Linked DNA regions of Homo sapiens. The main gene of each other region encodes a partner of the protein of the gene in region 2 in a complex. Each region holds a gene or a part of one and is shown on either strand. Other genes may lie near its edges.

Region 1 (3,748 bases), on a different chromosome or scaffold from region 2:
TCTCCTGCCTCAGCCTCCCAAGTAGCTGGGACTACAGGCGCGTGCCACCACGCCCGGCTAATATTTGTATTTTTAGTAGAGACGGGGTTTCACCATACTGGCCAGGCTGGTCTTGAACTCCTGACCTCGTGATCCGCCTCGGCCTTCCAAAGTGCTGGGATTACAGGCGTGAGCCACCACACCCGGCCTTATTTTTCTAAGATCTTTAACTCAACATAGTTAAATATTTTAACTCTCTGCTAACCTGTGTCATTATAGTACATCAAACAGCTATTTACAGTGTGCTGAGTCCTACATATCTGAGCACAATCCAGAATGGAGGATAACTGCTTTGAAGAAGATAAGTTTGAAGAGCCAGGAGACCCTAAAACTTATATTTTGTATGCCATTTATGGGAGAGGGGAACATAAAACATGCAACAAGGCTAGGATACCAGAGTAGTAATTTAAGGTCCTGGGCACTTTCACAAATTGAGGACATCTTGGTTGTTGCTCTTACACAATAAAACAAATGATTAACCGAAATATCAAGATTTGATTTTTTACCTATGACCCTAGAAACTTTAAACTCTGGCAACCTGAGACTTCTGACAGCAATTACATCGTTTTATAATTATCTATGTGTCTGGTTTATTCATACTCAATAAACGCTGGATGTAACAATGAATTTCTGTCCATGGCTTTTCAGAGAACACATGCTATTACCTCTTCCTATTTCCCAGGTAATTTTTGTCCCCCTCTACCCTCAAGAAAGAATTCCAAGAAGGAAAACAAGGCCCCACGCAATAAAGAAGCTTATCCAGACCCCTTGGCTAAAATCTATGTTCCATTCATTTAAAATGCTTCACTCTGTGGACACATATCATGATACAAGTAAAACCTCAAGAATGACACTCCCTCAAATGCCTATTCTTCAGTTCCTCAACGCAGGAACTGAGCAAGGCGAGACGGAGGGACGCGCCCAAGGTCACCTCGACGAACAGGGGGGATTATAACTGGCCCCGCATAAAGTCGATTACGCCCTGCGTTGGGAGGAGGTTCCGAGGTTCTATCAAACTCAAGTCTGGACCTCCTTACCATCCATCACAAGGTCACACGGGTGCTGGGTTGGGAGAGGGAGGCTCACGCGGCCGGGGAGGTACTAAGTACAGGGCTAAGAAGCCGACTGGCCGCGAAAGACCGCATTGCCCAGTTACCAGGCCCAAGTCGACGAGGCTGCGGTTGAGTCTGGCTTGCACCTTGGGAGCCTGGACAAGGGAGAAGGAGGGCAGTGGGCAGGGGGGCAAGAGAAATGCAAAGACAGCGGTGAAGCTCACCAAGGCTCTCGCGCGTACTCCTCCATCTTGACTCCAATGCCGCGAGTGATGCCGGGCAAGCTGGGCGGAGCCTGACCCCAGAGGCGGAAGTGATCCCGAGAGGAGGGCGTTAAGGTCTATGAGCATTGGTTCACCATTTCCCGCTGCAGCCAATGGGAGCCAGGACTCCTGTGGCCAGCGTGTGGTCGGGGCATTGGCCGCGGCGTGGCGAGACTGGCCCTGCCCACGTCCTCAAAGGCCGCGAGTCCCGGCTGTGTGGGCGGGGGGCTACCAATGACGGAGTCACACTACCCGGTCACCAGAGGTTCCGTGGACTGAAATCAACGCGATACTGCCTAAATACGCTTCTTTCTTTCCCTTCCCTTCCGCCTTCCCTTCCCCCTTCCCTTCCCCCTTTCCTTTTCTTCTCTCCTTCCATCCTTTTTCTTTCTTTCTTTTTCTTTTCTTCTTCTTTTTTTTTTTGAGACAGAGTCTGGCTCTGTCGCCCAGGCTGGAGTGCAGCGGCGAGATCTCGGCTCACTGCAACCTCCGCCTCCCGAGTTCAAGCGATTCTCCTGCCTTAGCCTCCTGAGTAGCTGGGACTACAGGCGGGCGCCACCAGGTCCGGCTAATTTTTATGTTTTTTTAGTAGAGACGGGGTTTCGCCATGTTGATCAGGCTGGACTCGAACTCCTGACCTCGTGATCCGCCCACCTCGGCCTCCCAGAGTGCTAGAATTACAGGCGTGAGCCGCCGCACCCGGCCTCTTTCTTTCTCTTCTTTTCTTTTCTTTCCTTTCTCTCTCTTCTTTTTCTTTCTTTCTTTTTTGGTACTTTTGCTGTCAAATGTGGATTAATGCTATCTTATTCGTCACTTACTGTGAAGCTGTTACCAAATACACGTAGCTCCTTTAGGGCAAACAGTGTCTCAGTGATTTATAATAACCACAGTGCCTGGAATGTAGTAGATGCTCAATAAATGTTTGTGAACTGGAACTGTTTGGGCCATCTGGAGAGCCATGACCAATTTGGAGCCCTCGATTTCAGGGACATTGACACCAGAGCCTCTCACAGGCCTCTCCACTAATGATCACCAGAAGGTGTGAAGATGTTTGGCTCGGAGAAGAGGGGACTTATGGGGACCAGGCCGGGCGTGGTGACACGTGCCTGTAGCCCTGACTGTTCGGGAGACTGAGGCGGGAAGATAGCTTGAGCCCAGGAGATCTACCCCGCAGGGAGCTGTGATCATGCCACTGCACTCTAGTGACAGAGTGAGACACTGTCAAAAAAAAAAAAAAAAAAAGGTTGGGACCCATGGAGCTTTTAGTTTACTGTCAACAAAATCCCAATCATGTGATGGCTGTTAAAGTGCTCCTCTCCATTCTGTACGTTTGTAATTAACTTTAAAAATATGTATATATTTATTTTACGGAAAAGTCAATGTCATAAATAATGGAAGAGGCCGGGCGCAGTGGCACACGCCTGTAATCCCAGCACTTTGGGAGGCCGAGGCGGGCGGATCACGAGGTCAGGAGTTCGAGACCAGCCTGACCAACATGGTGAAACCCCGTCTCTACTAAAAATACAAAATTTAGCCTGGCGTGTTGCCTGTAATCCCAGCTAGTCAGGAGGCTGAGGCAGGAGAATGGCTTGAACGTGGGAGGTGGAAGTTGCAGTGAGCTAAGATTGTGCCTGGGTGACAGAGCGAGACTCCACCTCAAATAAATAAATAAATAAAGGAAGACTGCAAAGAGGAGTGAGGGTCTCTCCAAAAGCTTGGAAATAAAGTAAGCAGATGAATCGAACCCTCCATGGAACTAAAGATTATCAATAAATGTGTCTTGCACGTGAGAATGGTTCATACTAGTTATCTGATTTGGGTGTGTAAGGTGGAGAAGACGTGTTCAGAATGTGACTGTAATTAAGAATAGTTAACTCTATTTAATTGTACAGGCCAAAGAGAGAATGTGGGAGAGGGGACATGGAGGAATTCAGAGGGCAGGAATCTGACATTTAGTCAGCACCGAAGACCTGGTGGGTATAAATATTTTAGTAACTAGAGATTTGCACTCTCACCAGGACCCAGATAAAATATCCCTTAGCTCTAGCTCTAGCTACCTCCCTTTGTTCTTATTCCATATTTATTATGCAATCTTCTTCTTCTTATTTGGCTTCTGAATAGATTTCGATATAGAAGAGAATACCCTGGCCTGTGTTTATAACTATTCTTCTCCACTTGGTAGTTAATACTGGCTTATGTATCTGCCTCTTGTGAGATCAGTTATTTTGACTAAATCACCAGGAATAGTCAGGGTTCTCCAGAGAAACAGAACCAAGAGGATATATATATACACACACATATATATATCTTATTGTGTGCAAATATATATATATCCTTCTGTTTCTGTTTCTCTCTCTCTCTCTCTCTCTCTATATATATATATATATATATACA
Region 2 (3,748 bases):
TCCCCCTCACCTTGGCACCATTTTCGTCCACCGGGTTGTTTCCTGCAAGGGAGACCAGGATGAATATGAGGAATTAGGGCCCAGTCCCCTGGGTCCCGAGGGAGGAGTGGGATAAGGGGCCTGGACTCCTGGATCTGAGGAAAGAGAGAGGCACAGCCTCCTGGAGTCAAGCCAGGAGGGGGCTGGGAGCCAAGATTCCTGGGTCTTTGAGAGAAATGGGGCTGGGGCTAGGTCTTTTGGGTCTGTGGGATTTTTTTTTTTTTTTTTGAGACAGAGTCTCGCTCTGTTGCCCAGGCTGGAGTGCAGTGGCACGATCTCGGCTCACTGCAAGCTCCGCCTCCCGGGTTCACGCCATTCTCCTGCCTCAGCCTCCCGAGTAGCTGAGACTACAGGCGCCCGCCACCACACCGGGCTAATTTTTTTTTGTATTTTTAGTAGAGATGGGGTTTCACCGTGTTAGCCAGGATGGTCTCCGTCTCCTGACCTCGTGATCCGCCCGCCTCGGCCTCCCAAAGTGCTGGGATTACAGGCGTGAGCCACCGTGCCCGGCCGGGTCTGTGGGATTTAAAGTAACTAGTGGGAAGGCTGGATTTTTGGCTGCTGAGGAAAGACAAAGTTTAGGAAGCTGATCCAGGCCTATCCTTCCCCATCTTCCCCTCTTTCCTTTATCCTGGTACAGGAACCAACTAGAAAGACTAGAACCTTAAGGAGTGGAAGGGAGAAGAAAGAAGACTTCCCTGGTTTTCAAGGTAGGTGTCTTATTTGGCTGCCCTATTGAGGAAGGAGCCAGGGAATGAAGACGAGAGAAGCTGGTAGTGGGCAAGAGTGGGAGGTTCCACAGTGGACCAGGGAGGCCAAGGAACAAAACTGGGGGACAGGGATATGTCCCTCACCAAAGATATAGACGACGCTCACAGTCCCACCAGCTCCAAGCAGCCCAGCAAGCCAGAGCGCAACTTTTTTGGCATAGCTGGGACCCTCTGAGCCCGGCTGCTGCTGTGGCCCTTGCGCCTTAGTGCTCCCGCGGCTCCCGATCTCTGCGGCCTGCGGTTGAGAAAGGGGAGGTCAGCCAAGAGAGAAGAGAGGTCAGGATGGTCCCCACCCTCCAGTCCAAGAAGAATCAAGTTCAGGAGCCAAGAGGCAGACACCCACAGAGCCCTGGACATCTGTGTCCCTGGAGTAGCAGTCAGGATGTGGGGCTGCTCAGAGGGTCAAAACCAGACTGTCCCGCACCAGGATGCCAGGAGTTTTAAAAGCTAACAGGCCAGGTGCACAGGATCCTGAAGGCAACAGGACTGGAGGGTCTGCAGCCCAGAAAAGCAAAGCACGGAGAATAAGGGATGGGAGGGCCTAAACACTGGGATGAGAGGGAACGGAGGGCACAAGTGGTGGGGGAAGGGGTACAGACAGAACCGGGAGTTACGACGTCCGGCTGCTTGGGGCTAAAAGTAGCAGAGTTATAGGGTAAGGGATAGGAGCGGAGGCGGGGAAGGGCAATCACTTGTCTGGGGCTTGGGGAACTAAGGCACAGAAGTGATAGACTTGGAGGTCAGAATGGCTGGGTCTCTGTCAACATGGAGGCAAGTCGAATTGGAAACCCAAACGTCTACCTCGCCACCACCAACGCCACAGAGAAAATAACTCCCACGGCCAGACTGGGACTCCAGCGTCCCAGGCCCCTCCTGCTCAAGTATCACCTGAGTGGTCACTGAAACGGGGAACGGTAACCCCCTCCTCCTCCGGCACCCACGTGGGTGGGAGGTGGGGTCTAAGGACACACCTGGATTCCCAGCCTCCAGCCTAGGGGAGCAACCACCCAGGAGGTTGGGAAGGGCCCCAAAACACAAGCGGCGTTTCATTCAGCACCCTGAGGTGAGGCGTCCCGGAACCCCCAAGGGGCGGCGATATGTCCGTAACTCCAGGGAAGGGACCCCACATTCAGAGGGCCACCCTCGTTCCGCTCACCTGATCTGGGGCCCGGCGGGGCGGCGTCGCCAACCTCGTGCACAGTCCCCGCGAGCCGAGCCGGAGCCCGCTTCGCAAGCGCGAGAACACCGCTGCCGAGGCCGCCATCTTGCGCTGACGCCACGCGGCCCCGCCCACTCGCTCCCTCTTCGCCCGCCCCGGGCCGGAGCTACAGCCAATGGAAACGCGGGGGAGGGGCGGGTGGACGGAAGCCCGAGAGAGACCAAAGGCATCGGGCGGATTGCCGCAGGCGCGTTTGCTTCTGACTAGTCTCCTGGCTGACCCTGGGGGCGACAACTGGGATTCAAAGTCATCTGGACCACGCCCCCTTGGGCCTTGCAGAGCGCCACCGCCCCTGCAAAGGACGCAGCGAAGGAAGGGATCACACTTATTGCCCAGAGATAAAGCTGAGGCCATAATGAAGGGAGTCAGTGGCTGCCTGATTTGTCCAAAAAAATAGTCACGAGTCAGGCCGCTTGTCTCACCGTGTAAGGCAATCGGCCCTCACCTCCCAATTGTCTGAAGGGATGGGTTGCCCCTCCACACCTGTGGGTGTTTCTCGTTAGGTGGAACGAGAGACTTTGGAAGAGAAAAAGACACAGAAACAAAGTATAGAGAAAGAAATAAAGGGGGCCCAGGGGACCAGCGTTCAGCATACGGAGGATCCCTCCAGCCTCTGAGTTCCCTTAGTATTTACTGATCATTCTTGGGTGTTTCTTGGAGAGGGGGATGCGTCAGGGTCATAGGATAATAGTGGAGAGAGGGTCAGCAGATAAACACGTGAACAACGGTTCATAGACAAGGTAAAGAATTAAATGCTGTACTTTAGATATGCATACATATAAACATCTCAGTGCCTTACAGAGCAGTATTGTTGCCCGCATGTTCCACCTCCAGCCCTAAGGCAGTTTTCCCCTATCTCAGTAGATGGAACATACAATCGGGTTTTATACCAAGACTTGCCCAGGGACGGGCAGGAGACAGATGCCTTCCTCTTGTCTCAACTGCGAAGAGGCGTTCCTTCCTGTTTTACTAATCCTCCTCAGCACAGACCCTTTACGGGTGTCGGGCTGGGGGACGGTCAGATCTTTCCCTTCCCATGAGGCCATATTTCAGACTATCACATGGGGAGAAACCTTGGACAATACCTGGCTTTCCTAGGCAGAGGTCCCTGCGGTCTTCCGCAGTGTTTGTGTCACTGGGTACTTGAGATTAGGGAGTGGTGATGACTCTTAAGGAGCATGCTGCCTTCAAGCATCTGTTTAACAAAGCACGTCCTGCACAGCCCTTAATCCATTTAACCCTGAGTTGACACAGCACATGTTTCAGAGAGCACGGGGTTGGTTATAGAGAACCCCGTCATCTATAACAGGGTATGGTTATAGATTAACAGCATCTCAAGGCAGAAGAATTTTTCTTAGTACAGAACAAAATGGAGTCTCCTATGTCTACTTCTTTCTACACAGACACAGTAACAATCTGATCTTTCTTTTCCCCACATTGTCAGAAATAGACATTGAGGCCCAGAAAACGACCTGAAAAGCCAGCCCTCGAAAACTCTTCTGGCCAGGCGCTGTGACTGACACCTATAATCCCAGTGCTTCGGGAGGCCGAGGCAGGAGGATCGCTTGAGGCCAGGAGTTTGAGACCACACTGGGTAACATAGCAAGACTGCAATCTCTATTTTTAAAATTAATAATAATAGGCCGGGCGCAGTGGCTCATGCCTGTAATCCCAGCACTTTGGGAGGCTGAGGCAGGCGGATCACCTGAGGTCAGGAGTT

The links.
Region 1: TIMM50 (region 2) and TIMM17A share a complex: the UniProt entries of both Homo sapiens proteins name them as parts of the TIM23 complex.

What each region holds. Positions count from the first base shown.
Region 1 is NC_000001.11:201,953,120-201,956,867, reverse strand, and holds the start of TIMM17A (mitochondrial import inner membrane translocase subunit Tim17-A), read right to left. Parts: upstream 1,366-3,748; 5' UTR 1,342-1,365; coding exon 1,316-1,341; intron 1-1,315. UniProt on the Homo sapiens protein: Essential component of the TIM23 complex, a complex that mediates the translocation of transit peptide-containing proteins across the mitochondrial inner membrane.
Region 2 is NC_000019.10:39,479,179-39,482,926, reverse strand, and holds the start of TIMM50 (mitochondrial import inner membrane translocase subunit TIM50), read right to left. Parts: upstream 2,090-3,748; 5' UTR 2,074-2,089; coding exon 1,966-2,073; exon of another isoform or gene 1,939-1,965; coding exon of another isoform or gene 1,867-1,938; intron 1,698-1,866; exon of another isoform or gene 1,611-1,697; intron 1,045-1,610; coding exon 894-1,044; intron 43-893; coding exon 11-42; intron 1-10. UniProt on the Homo sapiens protein: Essential component of the TIM23 complex, a complex that mediates the translocation of transit peptide-containing proteins across the mitochondrial inner membrane. Has some phosphatase activity in vitro; however such activity may not be relevant in vivo.